Linked DNA regions of Homo sapiens: regions 2, 3, 4 and 5 are each linked to region 1. The links come from fine-mapping of genetic effects on gene expression. A gene starts in region 1. Each other region holds a variant in brackets. All regions are shown on one strand. Distances are between the middles of the regions.

Region 1 (5,107 bases):
GTGAGCGGATCACCTGAGGTCGGGAGTTCCAGATCAGCCTGACCAACATGGAGAAACCTCGTCTCTACTAAAAATACAAAATTAGCCAGGCATGTTGGTGCATGCCTGTAATCCCAACTACTCCAGAGGCTGAGGCAGGAGAATTGCTTGAACCCAGGAGGTGGAGGCTGCAGTGAGCTGAGATGGCACCATTGCACGCCAGCCTGGGCAACAAGAGCGAAACTCCACCTCAAAAAAAAAAAAAAAGAAAGAAATCACACTGGATCTGTAGAAAGAACATCAGTTCTTTTCAGGCCATGTGAATTCAGGCACATCTACCACACCTGTCCTGTTTCCTCACTTGAGAAAGTGAGAATAACAACATCACACCAATGTCACTCACCTTGAATGTTTACTATGAATTAAATCAAGACAAGCATTTGGAATTATTTTGTGAATCTTAAGTGCTACACAGGAGTGTGGCAGAGGAATAAGCTTCTAAAGTCAGCAAGTAAGGTTAAAATTGAGTGCAATAAAAATTGCTTAGAAGTTCCTTAAATTGCCCATGAGCACAGTATGACAAACTTGAGACACATGAGAACAAAGACTCTCTGAGAGACAGCTGGGACAAACATTCAGTAACACTGCCAGCAAAATTGCTGCACTAGAACATTTTCATTTCCTCTTTCTGCCAAGTGCATAACTGAATCTAAGATGAAAGTATGATGCAACTTTGTTATTCTACAATTTGAAATTGGCAAGTTAAGAAACCTCTCTGGGCCTCTTTGTCTAATGGTGTAGCTCAGCTGGATCAGGGTTTCCTCCACGGTTTGTCTGACAAATACTGCCAGCTTACTATGCTTACTATGTTCCAGGCTGCTGTGTTGGACTGGGGGAGGGTAGACGCCAAGGAGACAATCTGATCGCAACAGGCTGGTGAGTGGTGAGGCAGTTTCAACCTCCATTTGAGGAATACAGGATTCTATCATCACCTTCCAGGGAATGCAGTGAATGTTTAGAAAAATTACAGAAAGTTACATATTTGGTTATGAATACCAGCTACAATGCTATATCTAATATGAATTAAGTTTCTTTGTTTCCTTTTTTCTGTTTATGTTGCTACTTTTTTTTTTTTTTTTGAGACAGTCTCACTCTGTTGCCCAGGCTGGAGTGCAGTGGAGGGATCTTGGTTTGCTGCAACTTCCGCCTCCCAGGTTCAAGCGATTCTCCTGCCTTAGCCTCCTGAGGAACTGGGATTACAGGCACCTGCCACCACGCCCAGCTAATTTTTGTATTTTCAGTAAGACGGGGGTTTCACGATGTTGGCCAGGCTGGTCTCGAACTGCTTACCTAAAGTGATCTGCCCGCCTCGGCCTCCCAAAATGCTGGGATTACAGGCGTGAGCCCCAGCACCCCGCCTACGTTGCTACTTTTTAATGTGGGGTCATTTTTTAAACCTGGCTTTTTAATTGAAAAAGTAATACAAACATATGGAAAAATTCAAACTGTACTAAAAAAGGTAGACAATGAGAAGCAAATCTTTCTTCTATTTCAGACTCCTCCTTCCCCCATTCCACACCATATCCCCTCAACCCTCCTTCTATTCAGACGTTACCACTGGGTCAATCCGTTGAAAGTTACAGCTAAGGTGATACCTGGGGTCCAAAAGCTAAATATGGACCTACGCTATCACCAGTCCCTTCCAGTTCTAAAACTAAGTCCAAGCCTTTTGCAGCACGAAAGAGATAGCCTCCTCTCATCTAAAGTTATGGCTGGTAAGGCTGAGACGAATGGAAATGGATTTCAAAGACATAGATTTAGAACTCCTGAAAGGCAGGAGACAGAACTCAATACTTTCATGGTGAGTGGTTTATTTACTGATTAAATAAACGCTCCCTTAGGGATGTAAGCTCCACACCGGCAGGAGCTTCATCACCAGCTCTCACTGCAGACCCCGGCATTAAAGGAGCTCACACGGTAAAAGCCCCTACCGCCCACCACAGCCACAGCGGCCGGCAGCCCAAAGTGGGAAACCGCGCCGGCCGTCACGTGACTCCAGCTCCCCCCGGCAACCGGCCCGCCCCCACCGAGACCCCGCCAATCCGGAAGGGAGGTCCAATTTGGCCAGGCCAGGGCGTGTTCCACCGGCCCAGTAGCCTTGCTGCTGCGTTATCCCTAGACTCGCCCCACTTGCCTCGGAGTCTCAGGCCGTTGCCTAGGTCCTCCCGGTAAAACCCTGGAGACTGCTAGGGAGAGGAGCAAGGGAGGGGCCAGCGCGCAGAAGTGCGGACGCAACCCGGCGGCCGCGGGCGAGGCTTATGCAGAGCTTCAAGAAACAGCTAGGGAGACCGCAGGAGTCTCCAGAGCGCGCGCGCGGGCCCTCCCCGGCCCGACCCACGCGGCGCGGCGTGGTGACGCCCGCGCGGCCTGAGGAAGGGGCGGGGTCGGGGCGGGCCTCCGCGCTCCTCCCGCCCTCTCTGTGTCCCTACTCTCCCTCCCCTTCCCTCCCCCACACTCGGCCCCGTCAGCTTGGGGGTGCCTTCGTCGCGCAGCCTTGCGTCGGCCCGGCCCGGCCAGGCCAGCGGGCAGATGCCCCGAGCTGCCGCCGCCGCCGCCGCCGACTCGGCCGGTGGCGGTGTGGGAGGTGGGCGACCAGCCCGGGGCCGCTGAGTGTGACGGACGCAACTGGGGGCGCCGGGGGCTCCGCACGGACCATGTATTTTCTGAGCGGCTGGCCCAAGAGGCTGCTGTGCCCTCTGGGGAGCCCGGCCGAGGCGCCTTTCCACGTTCAGTCCGACCCGCAGAGGGCTTTCTTCGCCGTGCTGGCCGCGGCCCGCCTCAGCATCTGGTACAGCCGAGTAAGTAGAGCCGCCCGCCGCCTTTCGCCGCTGCCTCCCCGGCCTCCCGGCGCCGTCCCACCCCCAACTTCCACCCAGAGCCTAGGACTCCTGCCCCTTCGTGCCAGACCCACCTGCCTTCGCAGTCCGCGTCCTCGTTCCACCGAATTGGCCGCAGGTACCCGCCGGCTGCAGGCACGTCCTCCAGCCGGCGGTCCGGGGTGGATGAAGTCGCTGCTGCCGAAAATCCCTGAGCCTCCCCGCGTTGGACCGACGGCCGCGGCGTGCAGACTCCGCACGCTCCCCGGCCGAGCCCAGACTTGTTCTTCTCTCCCTTCCCCCATTCCCCGAGGGACAAATTTGTTTAAACTTTCCACAATTAGAAATCCGGCCGCTGTGGTGCCCCAACCCTCCCTTACTTTAAAGGTCGCCGTTTTGGAGTTAGGGAAAGCCTCTTGGGCTTTACCCAGCGCCAGACTTTACAGGCCTGTAATAACTTATTTCTACAAACTACAGCCTGAATTCTTTATTCTTCACTAAAGGTCTGGTTATTTAACTCCCCTCTTTAACCCCAACATCCCTTCCCCACTTTCGAGTTGGTCTTTTTCTTTGCTGCTGCTCTTGGACTCTTCGGAATAGGGGGTTAAAGGAGCGGAAGTAGAACTCAAATCTGTCCGCGGAACTCCCAGTTATAACACCTGGAAATAATAAGGCTTGGGAGGAGCATGGAACTGAATTCTGTTTTTGCTTTAAGTCCTGGTTATCTTTTTCTTTCTTGTATTGAATTACTGAGTAGATATGAGAAAGAAATAAGTGGTGGATGGGATACTCCCTACTCTCTGCAAACACTGCTATAACTTTGTCTATGAGAACGACAGAGTTCAGAGTATAAAAATGCTTTTTTTCCTCCCCAAAGAAGGCAGTACCAATCGATGTCAGAGTGAAGTTTTTCTCCTTTCCAAGTTAATTTGACCATGTGGGGATAGGTTGTGATCTTGTCCTTATTAGGTGTTCGTGAAATACTGGTTTTAGTTTGTTAAAATCCCCAAATCTTTGTGTGTTGCTGTTCCATTACCTGTAATGCCCTTGACAGTCCTCACCCACTTCCCTGGTAATACTGGTGATGGGATTTAGTGACGGGTAATTCTGGTGTCTCCTTTGACTGTCATAGTTGGGCTGTAAATCAGACTATTTGCCATCAAGTTTTGGCTGATCTAATTTTCAAATGCAAATCAGAACAAAACAAACTTATAAAATCGTAATACCAACAATATGACTATTTTGTCTAGTGCCTGATTGTATTTTGAATATATATGTATGTATGTGTGTGTGTATATATATAAACATATGTGTAAATATATATAAAGTATCATCTGGTTCCTAAATGAGATATTCGTTTACAATGTATATGCCAGTTGAATAATTTTTAATTTGTTTAGGTGTATATAACTCAACTTTAAAGCACATGCAGAAAAAAATAGAACTTGAATTTAAATTGTCTTTTGAATTTAATACATAATTCCTTTTGAATGTAACAAATTTAGACTTTCGTCTAAAATTTAACTTTTCTTACCTTTAAAAAGGCAGACCTAACTTAATTTTAAATAAAAGTAAACAATATGACCTATGAATTGACCAGAAGCCTGTAAACCACTTTATTCCCCCATAAGAGAAGCATAAACATATGCTTTAATTTAGGGACATTGTGAATATTCTTAAGCATGTCTATTGTTTGGTTTTGGAGTTACATACGACATCTAGAAATCCAAGGCAGTTCTGGAATTTAAACTATTCATACTCTTCTTTCAAATTCCCACCTCACATGCAACTTCCTTTTTCCACAGAAGTCCAGGGACCCCTACTATTAAGTTCTGTTGTGCAAAAGTTAGGCTGTAGGGAACCCATGGGTTTAGAGGTCTGGAGTGAAATGAAATGCAGGAATACCTTAGAGGAGGCTGTATAGTACTGTAGTATGAGTGGTTAACCTTGGTCTCTGGGCACCAGCTTTGTTGTCACTGAAAAAAATCAGATATTCACGAGGTCAAGAGATCGAGACCATCCTGGCCAACATGGTGAAATCCCGTCTCTACTAAAAATACAAAAAAATAGCTGGGCGTGGTGGTGCACGCCTATAGCCCCAGCTACTCGGGAGGCTGAGGCAGGAGAATCGCTTGAACCCAAGAGGCAGAGGTTGCAGTGAGCCAAGATCCCACCACTGCACTCCAGCCTGGCGACAGAGCAAGACTCTGTCTCAAAAAAAAAAAAAAAAAAAAATCAAATATTGAACCAAG
Region 2 (5,107 bases), 43 kb after region 1:
TTGGGCTCACTTCTTCAGCATGGGCAAGTGGGAATTTATAGCCAAGGAGCAGTGTGGGAGTCAATGGATAGAAAATTAATAAGAGGAAACATCAGGGGTAATGGGGATTCTGGCTAAAACAACAGGATTCTTGCTGAAGACAGACCAGGGTGATCAGACATCACTTAGGGGAGATTGGAGGATGAGCCACCTAATCAGATATCAAGTGTGGGGGTCTTGCTAAACTGGATTTTATAAGGAAATGCACAGATGGACCTAAGAGAAGAAGGTTCAGGAGCCTGACTAAAGTTTGACTAAGCACAGAATCTTTGTCACTGGTTATGTGTTTGAGGCACATCAGGTCTCCAGTTAGTATGGATACCTGTGCATCTCACAAATACAGGAAATTTTACTTTGCCTGTATGAAGTTTGCTTTCGAGCCCTTGAGCCCCTTCTGCAGCTTCTAAGTTCAGCAGATGTCTTGTGGGAAAAATTGGCTGTGGAGTTGAGGCATTTCAAGTCTGATTATTTCTTCAACCCTATGTAACTGCCAAGAGCTTTGCTGATTTTTCTTTGCTCCAGCAGGCGTCTGCCTGAACTAAGTCTGCTGCTTTCTTAGCCTGTGCCCAGAATTGGTGAATGCTCTTAGGGGAAAAAAAATCAGCTTACTTCTGAACAGCCCTCCTACTATGAATTTTAATCAGTCTAGGCCTTATTGATTCCATAGCTTGCCTGATGCCTTTAAAAATATAATTTTTTATGTTTTCTGCCTTTTTCTAGCTGTTGGGAGAGTTGGTCTGCCATGACCTACTTATTGTATATTACTGTGCAGTAGAATTCTTAACCATGTAATATAAAATTGCCTTAATACTCCTTTTATGATTTTTTGAGTCATTTCATTTTTATATATAAAATCCAAAGCATTATATAAAGATGGAATGAGCCCAGATATATCCATTAAAACTATTGTAACTGCCCAACAGTTTCGTTTTGCCTGCTGCCTGAATACAATTGATTTATCAAGACAGAGGAATTGCAATAGAGAAAGTTTAATTCATGAAGAGCTGGCTGAACAGAAGCGCCATAGTTTTATTATTCAAATAAGTCTTCCCCAATATTTGGAGGCTAGGGTTTTTCAAGGATAGTTTGGTGGGGCAGGGAATGGGTGCTGCTGATTGGTTAGGGAGGCAGTCAGAGGTGTGGAAAATGGTCTTCATGTCGAGTCCACTTCTGAGTAGGACCACAGGACCAGGACCAGTTGGTGGGTCCACGTGGAGCCCTCCGCCGTCAGAAATGCAAAAACCTGAGAAGGTATCTGAAAAGGCCAATCTTAGGTTCTACAGTAGTGATGTTACCTGCAGGAGTAATTGGGGAAGTTGCAAATCTTGTGACCTCTGGAATAATGACTGGTAATTGTTTACATTTACACTTTAGCAGAATTCAGGCTCCTCTCCTCCTCCTAATGTCTTGCTAAACAGATGATACAAAAATATCAGTGACCTTTCTAAACTATTACCAAATAATACAGAGATGGCTCTCTGTATTATTTATTTTATTATTATTATTATTATTTTTTTTTTTTTGAGACGGCATCTTGCTCTGTCACCCAGACTGGAGTGGAGTGGCGCAGCGCAATCTCTGCTCACTGCAACCTCCGCCTCCCAGGTTCAAGCAGTTCTCCCTGCCTTACCCTCCCAAGTAGTTGGGATTACAGGTGCTCGCCACCAGGCCCAACTAATTTTTGTATTCTTAGTAGCGACAGGGTTTTGCCATGTTGGCCAGGCTGGTCTCTAACTCCTGACCTCAGGTGACCCGCCTGCCCCGGCCTCCCGAAGTGTTGGGATTATGGGCATGAGTCACTGCACCCAGCCTGTATTATTTTATATCATAATGAAAGAAATGAAAATAAAAAAGAACCTGTTTTGCAGGCAGAGGCTACAAAAACTTTGAACAACTAGTAGAAATGGTTTAAGTTAATTTCTAAATTCTGAGAAGATAGAAGGA[C/T]TAAGCCCCCATTCCTAACTCCTCTCCTCTTCTCAGGAGTATAAACATGAGCCTAAAGTCAGAATCATCAAGATATCAAGTTCTTTAGGGAAAGAATAGGTGCTGAAGGACCAGGCAGAGGGAAAGGTTTGCTTTGCCACTCCTTAAGGCACTGAGACAGGATCTGAGATTTCACAGTTCTCTAAGTGAGCTTAAAAAAGTGGAATCCTGTGGTTTCCCTTCAGAAAAGGGAGGACTGTGTCTGCTCCTGGAAGTGGACATTAGCAGGGCTTCCCATAAAACTCTGTTAACTGCTGCGGACTTAGAGTAGAGGTTGCACAGGTGAACTCAGTTGCTGCCACACCTCATGGTCTGAGGAAGCCGGCCCTTCTACTCAGAGACAGTGCCTGAGAGGAGACTGCTGAAGCCTCAGCTCAGCAGTATGTGAGCTTGTCTGCCTCTGCAAACTGTCACTTTATCCAGCATCTGTAGGTTTGCATTGCCAGATACCCACATCAAAGCCTAACCTCTACAGGTGGCTAATGGAACACAGCAAAGAAAAAAACCACTAAGGGAGCTCATTAACTTTACGATGTAAGACCAAACTAAACAAGTAAAATATGTGGCTCCTATTGATGAGCCACAGGGATGAGACAGAAGAATGTAGTAAATTAAGAAAAAAATTACTAAGAACTTTCAGAAAATGTAATTAGAACATAATCAGGATTTTTCAGAGCTAAAAATTTCCTAAGAGAAAAATTCAACAGATGAACTGATAAATAACCCCTTGTGAGAGCTGAATCTTTTGTTCCAGAAGATCAAATAGAAACAATTTCATGATGTAAGGCATATAGAAATAAAATTATTTTTGAAAAGATAAGAGACCTGCAGGAGCAAATTCAAGAGGTTTGGGAATGAGTGTTATAGAAAGAAAACAAGACAGAACAAGTATTAGTTTAGGAAATAATAGAAGAAACTTACCTAGTTTAGAAACATTGAAGGTTGTCAGATTGAAAAGGCTGAGACTTAGATACATTTGATTGCGGGTGGGGCTATGTGGAAAAAGTTTAATGAAAAAACGTACATATCTAGAGATAATGTGCAGAAATAACTGAATTTCAGTCATGAGAAAAATCATTCAGAGAAAAGGGAAAGAGAATCACATTGACAATAGACTTCTCACTACTAACCCTGGAAACTTAAGGGAACATTAGAACAACATCTCATAGCCATGAAAAAAGAATCTCTAACAATCCTGTACCTAGACAGGATGTCCTTTATCTCGGTTAAGTAACGGTATGTTCGGATAATTTATTTCGTTTAATAAGGGAATGCCTTGGTATTGGAGCTACAGTGAACAGGACAAGCAAGTGGACATGTAACTAATTCCTAGGTTAGTGAGAGATAGGTGATAAACAAGTTTAGACAAGAAAATGAAACGTGATGACCATACCATCCATGTTAGGTATATGCAATGCTTAGGGACAATTATTATCTGTATTAATATTCATATTAATAAAAACTTCCTATGGAAGACCATCCTATTGAAAAATGGACGAACAAGGCAACTTGCAGAAGGAGAAGTATGAAGAGCCAATAAAAATGAAAAGATAAGCATCACTAGCAAGGAAACAAATGGAAATTAAAATAAGACCATTTTTCACCAATCTAATGCAGGCATAAACAGGAATTCTAGGAACAAGTAGAGTGTTACTGGGAATTAATGTAATTTTTTGGATAAATTTGGCAATACATATTAAAATGAATGTACATACATACACTTTGACTTGGCAATCCTACTTAAGGGAAGGTACCCCACAAAATATATATGCACCAAAACATAAGGAGATATATATATATATATATATATAAATAAATGTTGATTGCAGCATTGTCTGTAGTTGCCAAAGGTCCATCAAGAAAAGAATAGCAAAGTAAATAAGAAACTTCCATACTTTGGAATATCACACAAATACTAAAAATAGTAGTAAGTGTATCTATGAATGTGGAAGAACAGTCAGAAAACACTAAGTGAAAAAAATCAAATTGCATGGTAATGTGTAAATTAAGATTCCAATTTTGTGTGAAAATGATAAAAGTTCCTGTATATATTTATCAGTTTAAAAATTTACTCATTTCTGAGTTAGAATCCAATGCAGACATTTAAAATCAAGTTACAGAAGAATGTTAAGTTTATACAACATTTGTGATAAAATAATGTCATAAAAGCAGATTATAAAACTGTATGATAGCTTTATATAAAGAAAAAAATTGTATTTTAGATAACCCTCTACTTAAGAAACTAACAGATTTATCAACTGTGCTCGTCATAACCAGTTACATTAGCAGGCATTTACAGTATCATCAGTTTGGATTTAAAAACAGACTTCAGCAGAAGTCTAATATGCTGTAAAATATAAGAGTTTGTGCAAATGTCCCTGGAAAAGACATAAGGACTACATAAAAATTGATAATGATTATCTGTGAATGGTGAAACTATTGGCAGTTTATTTTTGTTACTTTCTGTGTTTCTTGGGTTTTCTTCATTGAACATGGAGAAATTTGTCATTCATAAAAAAAAAATTTAACAAAAATTCATTTATGATCCTGTATGAATTTTAAAATTCATATAAGCTAAAATGTTAATTCATGTTTTAAATAGCCCAAGTAAGGATGAATTAAATTACTAGAAGCAGGTCAGCATTTACTCAATATATTTAATATAAGCCAGATTACTATGACTAATATTATATTTATCTTAACATCTCCACAAAGTTCTAGAAATAAGACGGTGGTGAAAGGATAATAAAAACTCAGGACCCCAATTCACCACTCCAAAAGGGAAAAAATAAGCTGAAAGCCCAGTCATGCAAGAAACTGCCTTTCCTTTTGTTCCTGAGCTGATAACTACAGATAAAAGGTTAGGTTACCTACTCCACAAGTAGCTACTTATGTTCACCATATCTTATGTAAAGTGCCTGTTTAATGATGCCAGACGAATACATAATTGACTATTCCCCTACCTGCTCTTTTCTCTTGGAACTTGTGGATTACCATACCCTCCTTCTCTCCCCTCCAGCCCACTTTTCCCCTTTAAAGATTGAAGCCCTCAAATTCATCTTTGGAGAAAGGCACAGATCACAGA
Region 3 (5,107 bases), 72 kb after region 1:
TATAATGTGCCTCCATTGCATATTTATGACAATTTATAAGTGTTTAAAAAAGAAGGGGATTCTAGTTCATTAACTGCGAGGTTTTAGAGTGAACTAGAATTTGAAGAATGACAAAACTTTAAGAGGTTGCCAAAAAATACAGGTGTACTTGTTCAAAAGCAAGTCTCAGATTGAGTCATGTATCAAATGTAAGCAATAACAGACTTGACTCCTCTGGGGAACTTAGGCAGAGTATTCATTTATACAATACTTGAAAATTCCAAGTATTAACAAAGATAGCTTCTTTAATATAGCGAGAAACTCCTTACATCATATCCTTGAATAATGTCATAACATCGATGAGGGAAAAAAATTGATCCCTGGCCAGGGCCACTGTCAATATGGAATTTTCATATTCTCCCTATGTCTGTGTAGTACTGTAGTTTCCTCCCACATCCCAAAGATGTACGCTTTGGGTGAATCAGCATCTGCATGGCCCCAGTCTGAGCGAGTGTGGGGTATGTGTGTGAGTGCGCCCTCCAATGGAATGACATCTGGTCCAAGGTGGGCTTCAGCTTTGGCCCCAAGCTGCTGGGATGGGCCGTGGCCACCTGCAATTCTGAACTGGAATTAGTGGGTAAATGTTTTTATTCATCTTTCTTAAATGTATGTATAGCTTACATTTATTTCAATGTCTTTTTTTTTTTTTCAAAAAACTGTTTGTATATTGCATATATAACTAAAATATAAAAGCAACATTTTATAAAACTTTCTAGAGAGACAAATTCCACACAAGTGGTAAGGGCAACCTAGTGTCTCTAGATTTGTTCTGTTTCATAAATTGGATTTTAACAAATCCTATGTAAATCAATTTTTGTAAATAAAATGTAATTGTTGGATTTTTCACATGTTAGATTTTTGCAATAATCTGAGATTTACAACACTTTCTGATGTATGTTCACTCTGATTCTGAAACTAAATTATATTATTGGATTTCATATACAGTATTAAAATTAGTGGTGGTTTACCAAGATTAAACTTTAAAGCATATCTGAAAGTTATCTATCTGTAAATAAGACAAATTGTCTACAGAATTAGTTTTATATAGTCAGTGATGTGTAAACCTCTTGGCTTTAAGAACCACAACAACTTTGAATGCATTAAGAAAACTGTCACACAATTGATCCGAAACTGCATTAAGAAAAAAATTCCTACTTTTTTTTTTTTTTTTCCTTTCACTGGTTTCTTGTCTCTCAGGGTCATCGTTCCATGGGCTGTCCCCACCCAACCCCACCAAGTTTCCTTCATTGACATTTCTGTTCTTTCCTTCACAAATTCTGCCATGGCTTGTAGGGAGAGCACCTGATTAACCAATACTGAGCTGGGAATGACCGACACTTCTTAGCTAGTTCTATAAATTTTGTTAGTTTGTTTTTGTTAGCCCCAGTTAATCTCAAATAGATAGAAATTTAGAACATTATTGAGGGGATTATAATGGGATTAATCCCTTTTGCCTATCCCATAATGTATTCAGCTGTTTCATTTCTTTTTGTTCATTTGTGATTTTGTGTTTTCAAAGTAAAAAATCTGAATATTTATTTAGAGTTTACTTTGGATTAAAAATATTCAATTTATTAGAGCTTCAAAATAATAACTGTAGCTCAAACTTTTAAGTTCCATCTACAAATCTTAAAAATCTATTCGTAAATCTAGCAAATTTCAACACTTTTAGAGGGGAATCTTACAAATTAAATTCTCTTACGTATATTAATGTATATTTATAAATATGCCTTATAAATATATAATAAATTATATATTTTGTTTCTTCTTAAAATACTTGAATTGTCTAACAAGCTTTGTACCATTTCATGAGCAGGTATTTTTGCCAAAGCATGATATATGCATTGTGTAAACACCTTCATTCTGCACAAGTGCACACTAAAAACAAAGCTTGTGGGAAAATCGTTGGAACAGATCACTTAAAACTTCCTATAACTTTGAACTAGAGGAGTCACAAATAATAATCTTAATAAAAGTTAGAAAATAATTAAATTTTTTCTTTTCCATGTAGTTTCACAAAGACAACTGCAAGTTATAAATATTTTTTTTCAAATAAGTATAATTTCCTACTGCTTCCCTACTCTTCACATTCTTTTCCCCAGTTAGCTTACCTAGCTTTTAGTTCAGATTCTTCTCAGAATCGTATGGTCAAAGTCTGGTGTTTAATTTCCCTTCATGTTTCTTCTCAAAATTTATCAAAACTATCACTATGACTTAAGTTGGCTGGGTTCTATTTCATTAGTGCAAGTAAACAATAACTTGTTATCACCCATTTGTGGTAAAACTGTGGTATAGCTGGCTCTTCTGTTTGAGACCTATAGAAAAGCTCTGAATGTTTTTTTTCTTTCATGAGTGGATGTGTACATAGCACTCCTGATGGAGATATTTATCTTTTTTATGGGCATCTATATTGAATCCTTTGGAGTATATCGATTTAAATGCAAAGTGTAGCTTAGAAATAAATGTTTGGGCTGGGTGAGGTGGCTCACGCCTGCAATCTCAGCACTTTGGGAGGCCCAAGGCGGGTGGATCACTTGAGGTCGGGAGTTCAAGACCAGCCTGACCAACATAGCAGAACCCCCGTCTCTACTAA[C/A]AATACAAAAATTAGCTGGTGTGGTAATCCCGGCTACTCAGGAGGCTGAAGCAAATTGCTTGAACTGGGAGGTGGACATTGCAGTTTGCCGAGATTGCACCACTGCACTCCAGCCTGGGTGACAGAGCAAGACTCCATTTAAAAAAAAAAAAAAAGAAAAGTTCAGTTACATTTTCTCTTGAAAATTCAGGTTTTTGTTTTCTATCCATCTTCCTTACCTTGTATAGTTTAACTTAACTTTTGCTCTGTATAATTCGTACTATAACATTAGTATGAATATGGTAGGTAGTGCATGTCAAATCTATTATCTGTTCTTCCAAACAATTTTGCTTTTAGTGAGAAAACCATCATAATTAAAATATTGAAGCTGGTTAGTTTCTCAAGCACATGACTGGGATCAAAAGCAAAGGAGTAACTGTTAACATTTAATACACTCAAAATGTCAAAAAACATACGTGCATACATCCCACTTATGCAGGGATCCACGTATTAAACATCATCAATTGCCTGGAATAGCTAAGACTCAGGAAATAAGGCCTCCAAGGGGACACTCATCTTTACTCATTTAAGACATTTGTTGGTTTTGGGCTATATACAAGGCAATGGTGTGAATTAGAGTTGATTTTTTCCCAGTCTGAAGCTCATAGTTTATTAAGGGGACAAAAGCTAAATTCAGATAATATCAAATATACTGTAAAAGTGATGTGTACTCTAAAGGAGCTACAGATAAATAGCTTTGGGAGGCAGTTTAGAAAGGGAATATACTTTCAGTGTATTATTGAGGAATTCTTTGTAAAGAGAGTAGCATCTGAGCTGAGTCATGAGGTATATTAGTCTATTCTCACACTGCCATAAATAAACACCTAAGACTGGGTAATTTATAAAGAAAAGAGGTTTAATTGGTTCACAGTTCCGCAGGCTATACAGGAAGAATGGCTGGGGAGGCCTCAGGAAACTTACAGTCATGACAGAAGGAGAAGGGGAAGCAGGCACCTCTTACACGGCCAGAGCAGGAAGCCGGGGAGAGGTGCTACACACTTACACACTTTTTTTTTGTTTTGTTTTGTTTTTGTTTTTGTTTTTGTTTTTGTTTGTTTGTTTGTTTGAGACAGAGTCTCACTCTGTTGCCAGGCTGGAGTGCAGTGGCACCATCTCGGCTCACTGCAACCTCCGCCTCCCGGGTTGAAGCAATTCTCCTGCTTCAGCCTCCTGAGTAGCTGGGACTACAGGCACACGCCGCCATGCCCGGCTAATTTTTTTTGTGTGTGTATTTTAGTGGAGACAGGCTTTCACCCTGTTGCCCAGGCTGGTCTCGAACTCCTGAGCTCAGGCATTCTGCCCGACTTGGCCTCCCAAAGTGCTAGGATTACAGGCGTGAGCCACTGCATGCAACTGAGCTACACACTTTTAAACAACCAGATCTCACGATAACTTACTATCACAAGAACAGCACCAAAGGGGAAATTGCCCTCATGATCCAGTCACCTCCCACCAGGCCCCACCTCCAACGTTGGGGATTACAATTTGACATAAGATTTGTGTAGGGACAGAGACCCAAACCATGTAATTCCACCCTTGTCCCCTGCCAAATCTCATGTCTTTCTCACATTTAAAATACAATCATGCCTTCACAAGAGTCCCCCAAAGTCTGAACCCATTCCAGCATTAACTCAAAAGTCCGAAGTCTCATCTGAGACAAAACTAGTCTCTTCTGCCTATGAGCCTGTAAAATCAAAAACAAGTTAATAACTTCCAAGATACAATGGGAATACAGACATTGGTTAATACTCCCGTTCCGAAAGGGAAGAATCAGCCAAAAGAAAGGGACTATAAGCCCCGTGCAGATCTGAAACACAGTAGGGCAGTCATTAATTCTTAAAGCTCCAAAATAACCTCCTTTGACTCCATGTCTCACATAGCATTAAGTACATTTACAGTGTTTTGTACAACTATCACAATTACCTAGTTCCAGAACTTTTACATCACTCCAGGCAGAAACCATGGATTCATTAAGCAGTCATTCCCTGTTCTCTTCTGCTCTCAGCCCCTAGAACCATACATTTGTTTCTTGTCTGTGTCTCTCTGGATTTGCCTATTCTGGATACACTATATAAATATAATACAGCATGTACCTTTTGTGTCTTATTTAATTGCTGGATACTTTGTATAAATGGAATCACACACTATGTACCTTTTGTGTCTTCTTAATGTAATGTTTTCAAGGTTAATTCGTGTTTTAGCATGTATCAGTACTTCGTTTCTTTTATGGCTGAATAATATTTTGTTATATGGATTTACCACAGGGTGTTTATCCATGAATCAGGTGATGGCCATTGAGGTTGTTTTCACTTTTTGGCTATTGGAACAGTCCTGCTATGACTAGGAGTGTTCATAGCAGTTGTTCATGTACAATTTGTATTTGAACACCTGTTTTCAATTATTTTTGGGTATATACCTGGAAGTAGAATTGCTAGG
Region 4 (5,107 bases), 260 kb after region 1:
TCGGACCATGAATTTTAAATCATTATAACTAGGCTCATGTCATATTTTATGTGACATGGCAATCCTATGGAGGAGGGACCAACATTTAAAATAAATGGCTTCCCTAGGATAGAGCACTGGGACTGGGGAAAACAGAGGCCACAGTCAGCTGTGACTTTTTGAAGGAAGGAATAAAGTTGGTTTCTTTCATGCCAATTTAGCAATTACAGACGACCCCGTCAGAAATCTAAACCCGTGACTATCATGGGACTCAAAACCAGGAAAAAAAATAAGTCAAAACGATTAAGAGCCAGAGAAGCAGTCTTCATACACGCGGCCAGCCAGCAGACAGAGGACTCTCATTAAGGAAGGTAAGAGCGTTGCCTTCTCGCCATAATCATAGTCCTCTTCTCCCAGAATAGGATTTGGGAAATTCTGGCTAAGTCCTCTGCCTACCCTCATTGCCCCGCTGATGTGTGACATCAACAGAATTTCTCCGCAACGTTTGTCAGTCTCCAACCTCAGAGGGCTCACAAAGCCTCCTCCTGAATCCTCTCTCAGTCCTCCAACACTACCAAGAAGAAAAGCAATTATTCAGGATGGCATCTTGCTGGGGAGAAGCAGCCTCCCTGAGGTAGATGTGTTCTCCTGTCACTTAAAGAACCACTTCTCCTGGTCTGAGTAGTAAGAGGCGCATTTGCTGTTGCTGCACCATTTGCCAAGGCTCTGAGTTTGAGGTATGGGATGTATTAAAACAATTTAATGAAGAATTAAGATTCCATTCTGTCATTTTGAACACAGGGTTCAGTCCTATATTATTCACTTGAGAGGACTGGTGAGTTTGACTTTCATTTCTTTTTTACAACTGGGAAGGGCAAATTACACATAAAATGTCCCAGTGGAAAGGGGTCATGTGTCGAAATCCCCACTCTTCTGTCTCACCTCTCCCTGTTGTTTTAAACTGGGGCTCATTAATATAATTCTATGGGGATCACACCTTTGAAATTCATGAGGACAGTAAGAGAGCAGAAAAATACACAATAATAAGGAAAGGAGCTTCCATTATTGGTTTTTAATGAGCGTACTTGAATTACGGCCACTGCAGTTTATGGATATTTTTTGTTGTTCATTTGTATGTGTTATAGTTAGAAAAAAAAAGAATCCTAGCCAAGGGACTTGAACCAGAGAGAAGCAGAAATTGACTTAAGTAGGAAGGGAAACACATTGTTAGATAAAGTCAGGTCCTGGGCTTCCTCGGCTTGTTTTGGGTGGAGTGCCTGGGGACAGGCTGAAGCCCCTGTGTGGGGTGGTTTCCTTTGCTGAAAAGCTGGGCTGGAAGATGTTGTGCTCAGTGCTCAACCTCATGCACCCTCGCGAGGCACAGGCAACGGGTGCTCTGGGAAACACACGTTATGTATCATAGCCTCTGTTTGTCTGTGGGATTGATATCCAACAATAACTTTGGAGAAAAATAACTCCTCTAATTTTGTTAGCCACAGCCCTGGGCCAGGGAAGGTGGAGAATCAGTGAAAATGCATTTTGTTTGTTTCTCTAGAAGTTTATGGTGCAGAGTCAAATTGAAGGCAAATGAGGAATATTTTTTCACCAAATAATAACTCAACTTGCAAGTCTTTTTTGCTTTTGTTTGTAGTTTCTTCTTTGAACTTAATTTTCAGTTAGTAGGAGGGGTTAGAAACCTGAGCTATTGCTAAAGCCCTTGATATGAATGAAAGAAGCAGGTGCAAATCCCCTCACAGAGAGAAACCAAAGGGTCCTGGCTATGGATATTGGTCACCTAGTGAGGATGCTGTTGTGGGTCTTTATGAGATGATGAATAGGGTGGCTTTGGATGCATTAATGATGCCCACATGCTCCTTCTGTTAGGTGTCCTGTGCCCTGACCCTACAAGATGCCAAGAGAAGATGCTCACTTCATCTATGGTTACCCCAAGAAGGGGCACGGCCACTCTTACACCACGGCTGAAGAGTAAGTTCAAAACCAGACCCAGCAGGGCTTCCAGTTTGCCGTTTGCTGACACAGCCTGCTGACTTCCACCAGTACATGCCTGCTCGTAAATCTCCCTAGTGTTTATCTCCCCAGACAGTAACATCCCTGGCAACAAGGGGAGGAGATTCTGTGCTTCTATAAGGGGCTCAGTCAAGCTTCTCTGAGGCCAAACAGGCAGGAAGATGGGAATGGTATAAGGTTGGATCTTGCCATTTTTGGGTGCACTTTTGACTATTGGGTCTTATCTGTAGGTTCCCAAGTGGAAAAACATCTGTTCAGGATCACA[A/G]TGCCTCTCTCCTCAATCCTTGTTCTGTCTCCTCCACTCAAATTCCTGAAGGTGGTTTGCAGACAGAATAAAAGTGAGTTGCCAAGGAGCCAGTAAGGATGACGGGCAGGTGTGTGTGACTCAGCCCACAGCCAGACTCGAGAGGAAGATGGAGGTCACAGCCTTTGCAGTATAACTTTATCCTAAGGAAAGACATTGGGTTTTATGAGTGAATTAAAAATAAGTATTTATATGATTAAGCATTTCTAAATGCTAAGCATTGTATACTGGCGTGAGACACTGTTTTTATCTTTGAAAAAACTCACAACTTAGTGGGAGAGTTAGGCATGAGATTAATTTCAGCAAATGTAAGTGCGGTAATGAAAACCCAGAGGCTGCAGGGACATACTCTGTATGTGCTGGGAGTGGGAAAGGGACATACTCTGTACGTGCTGGGTGGCAGGGGCAGGGGAGGCCCCACCCTCTGCGTGGGACTCTAACAGGACAACACCCTCTTATGTGGTCTGTCCAGAACTCCCTGTGAACCTGCTCTTTCTTTGGAAAGAGCTGTTGAACAATCTTTGTTAACAGTCAACCGCAGGGACCAGCAAGATGTAAAGCCCAACAAAGGCACTGAGGAAGAGTTCAGGCAGACAGCATTTCCTCAGAAGACCCTGGTATAGGATCCTCTAATATCCCTGGCCAATTGGAGATGAGGGCGGCGGTATCTTCTCAGAAAATGTCCTGACAGCAAAAACATACTCTTTGAGGGAGGGGAGCCCATTGCCCGTGCTATTAGTTAGGGTATCGTTTCAGCTTGTGTATAATCACTCAACAGACTCTTTAAAATATACTTTTATGTCTCGTGTAAAAATTCAAGAGTAAAGAGTTCAAGGCCTGTTCGTTTTCTTCTTGCTGGTTACTCCCTTGGGATGTCACTTTTGTCCCCATGGCTGAAGATGTTGTGCCATCACCTCCACATCTTGCCAACAGAAAGCAGGAGGTGAAGGAGAGGCTAGGACCGTTCCTTTCAAGGGGCACACGTCACTTCTGCTTATTGCTCCACCCCCGCCCCCCGCCCCGTGGCACCCACCCTGGTGGGTATCATTCTTGCTGTGTTGTAAATGAAGAAAGGTTTAGAGAAATTAGGAAATGTGTGGCCAGACATGGTGGCGCTGGGATTTAAATCCAGGTCTGTTTGCCTCCAGAGTCCATGCTCTTAAGTGTTATGCTGCAGGCCAGCAGAGGCAAATATTTGCACAATCCCATCCGACGAGAGGCTAGGGCAGAGGTCAGTATCTCTCAGTGTGAAGCTGGAGGCTGATGCTAGTCAGCTCAGTAGGCCGAAAGTGGAGTTGTCCTTTGCCATGTAGGGCCATCATGCCCAGCTGGGGAACCTCATAGCCAGGTGTACCCACAACCTGAACAAGGTAACTTTCAGGGTCTAGTCAGGAAGAAACCAACTAGATGGTTCAACATAGAGACTTTAATATAAGAAGCTGGTTAAACAGGCATGGGACTGAGACTGAGGAGGCAAAGAAGGCATCGGGGCAACCAAGGCTGTACCCACAGAATGCTGCTTCTACCCCCGTGTCTGGGGTAACAAACGGAAGGGTGAGGCCATCAGGACCTAGAGTTGGGAGGAGGGACGCCACAGAAATGGGACCCAGATCTCTAAGGAGAGATTTTTGTTTGGCTGGTTCTGGTGTCTCAAGAGCTTAGAAGTGAGGGGCATGAATCAAATACTCAGGCCTCTGAGGTCAGCCAGTGCTCTGCTGGGGAGGGGCATAATGAAGCTGGCTCTGACAATGCCGGAAAACGAGCTGGTGCTTGGCATATACAGACAATGTGAGCATTGCTGGGGTGATCCTGACAGGAGCCAGAAGCACACTGGAAGGAGCTGCTCCTTCTTGATGCCCCAGGTTTGTAGGCACCCTCTAGAGTACTCTAATGGGAGCCAGTGGGCAAAGGAGAAGTGGCATTTGCAGAGTCCAGTCCCAGCATCACAGAGCAGAGCATAGAAAGGTAGGTTTGGAGTTGAGGGACAATGGCTTAATAAAGGGCAAAGGGGGTTATGACCACTATCATGTGAAGGAACCCCTTGACTGAAGGCACAAGCTTTCTGTGTCTTGCAACCTGAATGACGTGCATAAGCAGGGTCAGGTGGGTTATCTGACATTTTCCTTGAGAACAAGAGGGAGCCTCTGGATTCCAGCACAAAAGAAAAATACCCACTCAACCCGTATGCGTGGGAGCTATCCTTTAAAGAGAAAGTAATTCCTTTTGACATTTTGCTGTCTGTAGAAGGGTCAGATGGCCAAAGCTTCCAGCACAATGAAACACTTAACTTCAGTCTGTGAGTGTAGGAACCCCTGAATACATGGAACATCATCATCTTGTGCAGGTACTGAAGGAGATCGGTCCAGAAAATAAGTAACTGCACATGGCCACCAATGTCAAAAGTCATTCCTCTCATGAAAAGTCCCTGCCCCCATTGCTGTTTGTTTAAATAGGTGGGATGGAGGTAGGGGAATGGGGCCATCTTCTTTTTTTTTTTTTAATTTTTTTGCATAAAATCCAGATCCTGCACAATGGGGCAATCTTCATTAAAACAATGCATCCCTAAGATCTGAGAATATTTATCCTTCTCACAATTGTGCCAGCAGGTGGAATGAAGAAGAATGATGCAAAATAAGTTCCCACATCCAGCCAAGAAGGACTACATACCTGCTTTGGGTATTATGTATCTCTTTGAAACCTCAGTGGAGAGCAGTTCTCACAGTTGGGTGGACACAAGTCATCCATGGAACTTGTTAAAATGCAGATTTCTAGGTGCTGCCACCTAAGAGGCTGATT
Region 5 (5,107 bases), 160 kb after region 1:
ATCAATATTGTGAAAATGGCCATACTGCCCAAAGTAATTTACAAATTCAGTGCTATCCCCAACAAGCTACCATTGACTTTCTTCACAGAATTGAATAACTACTTTAAAGTTCATATGGAACCAAAAAAGAGCCCACATAGCCAAGACAATCCTAAGCAAAAAGAACAGTGCTGGAGACATCACGCTACTGACTTCAAACTATACTACAAGGCCACAGTAACAAAAACAGCATGGTACTGGTACCAAAACAAGATATATAGACCAGTGAAACAGAACAGAGACCTCAGAAATAATACCACACATCTACAACCATCTGATCTTTGACAAACCTGACAAAAACAAAGAATGGGGAAGGGATTCCCTATTTAATAAATGGTGTTGGGAAAACTAGCTAGCCATGTGCAGAAAGCTGACACTGGATCCCTTCCTTACACCTTATACAAAAATTAACTCAAGATGGATTAAAGACTTAAACGTAAGACATAAAAACCCTAGAAGAAAACCTAGGCAATACCATTCAGGACACAGGCATGGGCAAAGACTTCATGACTAAAACACCAAAAGCAATGGCAACAGAAGCCAAAATAGACAAATGGGATCTAATTAAAGAGCTTCCGCACAGCAAAAGAAACTAACATCAGAGTGAACGGGCAACCTACAGAATGGGAGAAAATTTTTGCAATCTATCCATCTGACAAAGGGCTAATACCAGAATCTACAAAGAACTTAAACTTACAAGAAAAAAAAAAAACATCAAAAAGTGGGCAAAGGGTATGAACAGACACTTCTCAAAAGAAGACATTTATGCAGCCAACAAACATATGAAAAATAAGCTCATCACCACTGGTCAGAGAAATGCAAATCAAAACTACAATGAGATACCATGTCACGCCAGTTAGAACGGCGATCATTAAAAAGTCAGGAAACAACAGATGCTAAAGAGGATGTGGAGAAATAGGAACTCTTTTACATTGTTGGTGGGAGTGTAAATTAGTCCAACCATTGTGGAAGACAGTGTGACGATTCCTCAAGGATCTAGAACTAGAAATATCATTTGACCCAGCCATCCCATTACTGGATATATACCCAAAGGACTATAAATCATTCCACTATAAAGACACATGCACATGTATGTTTACTGCAGCACTGTTCACGATAGCAAAGACTCAGAACCAACCCAAATGCCCATCATCAATGATAGACTGGATAAAGAAAATGTGGCACGTATGCACCATGGAATACTATGCAGCCCTAAAAATGGTTGAGTTCCTGTCCTTTGCAGGGACATGGATGAAGCTGGAAGCCATCATTCTCAGCAAACTAACACAAGAACAGAAAGCCAAACACCGCATGTTCTCACTCATAAGTGGGAGTTGAACAATGAGAACACATGGACACAGGGAGGGGAACATCACACACCAGAGCCTGTCAGAGGGTGGGGGGCTAGGGGAGGGACAGCATTAGGAGAAATACCTAATGTAGATGACAGGTTGATGGGTGCAGCAAACTGCCATGGCACATGTATACATATGTAACAAACCTGTACATTCCACACATGTACCCCAGAACTTAAAGTATAATTTTAAAAAATTTAAAAAGAGTCGTAACTGCATCTTGGCTAAAAACAAATGTAAATAGCCATAACTGCATCTTGACTTTATTGGCCCTAAAAGAAGAAGAGGAGTATTAGGTTAGAAGTTGTTCAGCTGCTTCACCTTGCATTGAACTGTTCTGAGAGAATTCACTCAAAGTTTAAATAACTTGCACAGAGATCTCTGAACTCAAAGTTCATGCTCTATTTTGGTGAGTGGTGGTGCCCTTTCCTTCTGTGGAGATTAGAATAAGCAATGAGTCACTCTGGCTGAAAGGCAACTTCTTCCCTCCCTCCTACCCTTACTCCCAAATAAAAGAACGCCCTTTACCCTTTGCTATTTTTTTGCTAATGGGGATGATTTAAAACTCCTACATAGGTGAAGCTCAACATTTACCTAATAATTTCTGTGAAATTCAGAAGTACCATTTCATTCTAAGATAAAGGATTCTAACTGAAGTAAACATTTCCATGTTGAGTTCTTTGCTCACATGAGCCATCTAGGTCTTTTAACAGCAATTAAAAGGCTCTGTGGACATGGAATAACCCTTGAAAATATGGGGATACAGAAGAACACAGATCTGTTTTTCAGTTAAAAAGATACCAACCAGTATATTAAACAGTTTATTTCAGTAACATTGTAAGGCAACAATTAATCCTCAGTAAGTCAGCAAACCAGTGACAAGAAATTGACAAACACTCCTTCTACAGCTTCCTGAGACAGCAGGCTGGCTTGTGGCCCCCTGGGTG[G/GT]TAACATCTTAAGGAATCCTATCATGTTTGTTTATATATGCTAAACTGTAAAAACAAACACTTCATGCGACAATCATTCTTAGGTCAAACACAAGAACGAACTATTTTGAAATCAATTCCTCACACTTTTTCCCTGAATATGCAGTACTGTACTACTAACATCTAATTCTGTAGAAAATAATGCATTTGTTAGTGACTTTGTTAGAGCTTGAAAAGACCCTTTTAGAAATTATTTAAATGATCACTCTTTAAAAATTTTTTTTAATCTCAGAATCTACTAATGTGACAGACAAACGGTATGCTTAACAGAGTCATAAATACTGTGTATAATTGCTTGACCATTTCTGGCATTTAAATGACCTCCCAGAATATTACACAAGCCCTGAGACTAGTGAGCATCTTACTACTGACCTTGTACAATACCAAAGCTTCATAATGCTAAAGAAAACCAAAACAAAAGACAATGGTTTACACAGGGAAATAACCCTAAGGCAATATGAAAACAGTCATAATTTATTACTGATAAAGAGTAAAGGCATCCTTCCCATAGAGGGGGGGAATTCACAGGGAACACTAATTATATCAGATGAACCACGGGGATAGAAAATAGGCCCATTTTTAAAATTCATTGAGAAATTATTACTTTTTCTCCACAACTGTGATTCTATACAAAATATAAACCCTGCAAACCTTATGTGCTACCTGACAGATAAAAGTAGCAGGAGCCAGACTCTTGAAGCACTTGAGACTGATTTCTACAAAGTCCAGGAAGAGCAATGATTCCAGTGTGCAGTGCTGATGCATGTGTGAGCCTAACATGTTATTCAGCTCTGGTTGCAGCCCCATCTACATGGGCCCAGTTAGTTTTTAGGGAGTCACAGATTAGGCAGGCAACGAGGGGCATGATTTAAAAAGCACATCATACACATGAGACAAGCAGCTTCAAGGACGTTTTCTCCGGCAATGCATACTTACTGTGCTCTTTCTATTCAGACAGATCCACAGACCACCTTTCAAGAGCATTCCTCTCTCATTTCCTCCATCACCCAAGATAAATCTAGCCACCCTTTTTTGTTAACTGTGCCTTTTCTTTCAACTTTTTGTCCTTGTTAAAACTCAAAATTTGTCCAACGTTTCACATTTCCTAATGATAAAAAGAAAGCTTGCACAGTTTACCATTGATCTCACCAATGCCCTCACTGCTGGAACCAAAAAGCCATGAGAGGTACTGCTGTGATACACCTTACAAGCTACATAGCCATCTTCAAAATGAAAACCACCTTTTAAGTCCTCATGCTGCCATTACGCAGGATCTGAACCACCTACACGTACAGTGGTCTCATTCCAGTATAAGCCACAACCTCAAGTCTCAGGAAAGCCAGTCTGCTGGATAGTAAGTTACTGAGAAAAACTAATCTATTCAACTGGCTGGAAAACAAAAAGATAGGCCCAGTGCATCAGTAAGATTATACCATGAAGGACTAACCTTGTATAACACAAGACTCCTATGAAACAAAGAAAAGAGAATAAATATTTATAAAATTCCCACCACTCCCAGCCTTCCTTCTACCCCAGAATAGCCCAGATGGCAGCTCAGTGCTCTGAGGAAGGAAGTTAAGGTCATGTACTGGCACAAACAATATTCTGAACCAAAAGAACCTACGAAAACCAGAGGGGTATGTGGCCAAATATTCCCCTTTTCAACTTGGTAAGATGGAGAGGGGTAACAGACATGTTTCAGAGGAAAACAGGCATAGAAAACCACCTCAGGAAAGCAGCACAGCAGTGCATCTGTGTGTCCACTTGTCAGGACAGTGAGTCACCAGCTCAGCACAGGGTCCAGGCCTCAGCACAGAGAGACAAAGCACATTTGAGAGGCTGCCTGAAGAAACAGCTTGACACAGGCTACAGCCTCAAGAGTGCAATGCTTCTCTCCCAGCCCTATGGCAATCACTTTCCAGTGACCTACACAGAGTTATATTCTCAAGGGGAATCATTACCTCAGTGAATGATATTTTACCCACCATCCACTAATACAACAAATGGTTTTGGGGCTTAAATTGGAAACAACTTTTGTCTCATTAACAATGCTCTGACAGTGTACATCTTTCTTGATCCTAAAGGGGCAGCTATTGAAGTGGATTGTTGGCTTTGTCCTTAAGGTCATATAAAATGACGTGTGTGTAGTGGCAGTACCCACATGTGCTGAAGTGCCAAAAGACTGGCATTTTCAAGTGTCAACAGGCCATGCATCACTGCGCCACAGCTAAACCCTTATAGTGCTTGGCCCTGAAAAGCGTTAACCCAGAAAGCTCTTTGAACATATGATCATTAAAATTCATTGACTTACGTTACAAACATCCACGTAACATAGGGAGAAACCATGTCACATGGAGTATCCACTGGGCATGTACTTAGAGCTCATCCACAAGATTAAAATACAAAGAGATCGTAGGTGCACACCCAGGCAGAGGGAAATGTCCAATCTGGGAACTTTTCCTTCAGAGCATCCAGTTGAGGGGATCTCTTGTCTTCCCCAGACAGATAGTGGGCAGCAATGGCCACGGTGACCATTCCTTCAGGATGTTCTTCTGAAACCTGCCAGAGAAAATCAATTAGTTCTCCAGTTCTCAGAAGCCAGAATACTGAACCCAAGGTTCTTGCTAAATACCACCTGGGAACCTAATCAATGAAACAAACAATGCTGGGAAATTGGCACCTGCACTTCTATCCAGAACTGCCATGCAGAGGCCTGGAGTCCATGGG

Direction of the effects. Alleles are on the strand shown, and positions count from the first base shown. SD is a standard deviation of normalised expression in the study named. Not every link is listed here.
For the expression in prefrontal cortex of the gene that starts at base 2,491 in region 1, GT is the low allele of the variant in region 5 and G is the other (small effect, 0.33 SD a copy in CommonMind).

Evidence for each region.
Region 2: its variant is fine-mapped to the expression of RIC1 in whole blood (INTERVAL, PIP 0.92).
Region 3: its variant is fine-mapped to the expression of RIC1 in tibial nerve (GTEx, PIP 0.96).
Region 4: its variant is fine-mapped to the expression of RIC1 in whole blood (TOPMed, PIP 0.97).
Region 5: its variant is fine-mapped to the expression of RIC1 in prefrontal cortex (CommonMind, PIP 0.95).

The regions. Positions count from the first base shown.
Region 1 is chr9:5,626,617-5,631,723 of GRCh38, forward strand. RIC1 (RIC1 partner of RAB6A GEF complex) reads left to right here and starts at 2,491. Exons shown (of 26, transcript NM_020829.4): 1 at 2,491-2,837. The coding sequence starts at 2,694. INCR1 (interferon stimulated noncoding RNA 1) reads right to left here and starts at 3,111. Exons shown (of 3, transcript XR_007061406.1): 1 at 2,951-3,111. RefSeq lists enhancers at 681-900, 2,811-3,311 and a silencer at 2,251-2,790.
Region 2 is chr9:5,669,726-5,674,832 of GRCh38, forward strand. All of the region lies in intron 2 of RIC1 (RIC1 partner of RAB6A GEF complex), which reads left to right. Among named protein-coding and RNA genes, the nearest start is that of INCR1, 43 kb to the left of the region's middle. The variant C/T (reference allele first, on the strand shown) is at 1,984.
Region 3 is chr9:5,698,821-5,703,927 of GRCh38, forward strand. The region is part of intron 3 of RIC1 (RIC1 partner of RAB6A GEF complex); the gene reads left to right. Among named protein-coding and RNA genes, the nearest start is that of INCR1, 72 kb to the left of the region's middle. The variant C/A (reference allele first, on the strand shown) is at 2,633.
Region 4 is chr9:5,890,587-5,895,693 of GRCh38, forward strand. MLANA (melan-A) reads left to right here and starts at 303. Exons shown (of 5, transcript NM_005511.2): 1 at 303-350; 2 at 1,864-1,965. The coding sequence starts at 1,889. It also overlaps a transcript of BRD10 not described here. The variant A/G (reference allele first, on the strand shown) is at 2,273.
Region 5 is chr9:5,782,370-5,787,476 of GRCh38, forward strand. ERMP1 (endoplasmic reticulum metallopeptidase 1) reads right to left here. Exons shown (of 15, transcript NM_024896.3): 14 at 5,061-5,107; 15 at 2,203-4,939. The coding sequence ends at 4,775. Among named protein-coding and RNA genes, the nearest start is that of ERMP1, 48 kb to the right of the region's middle. The variant G/GT (reference allele first, on the strand shown) is at 2,342.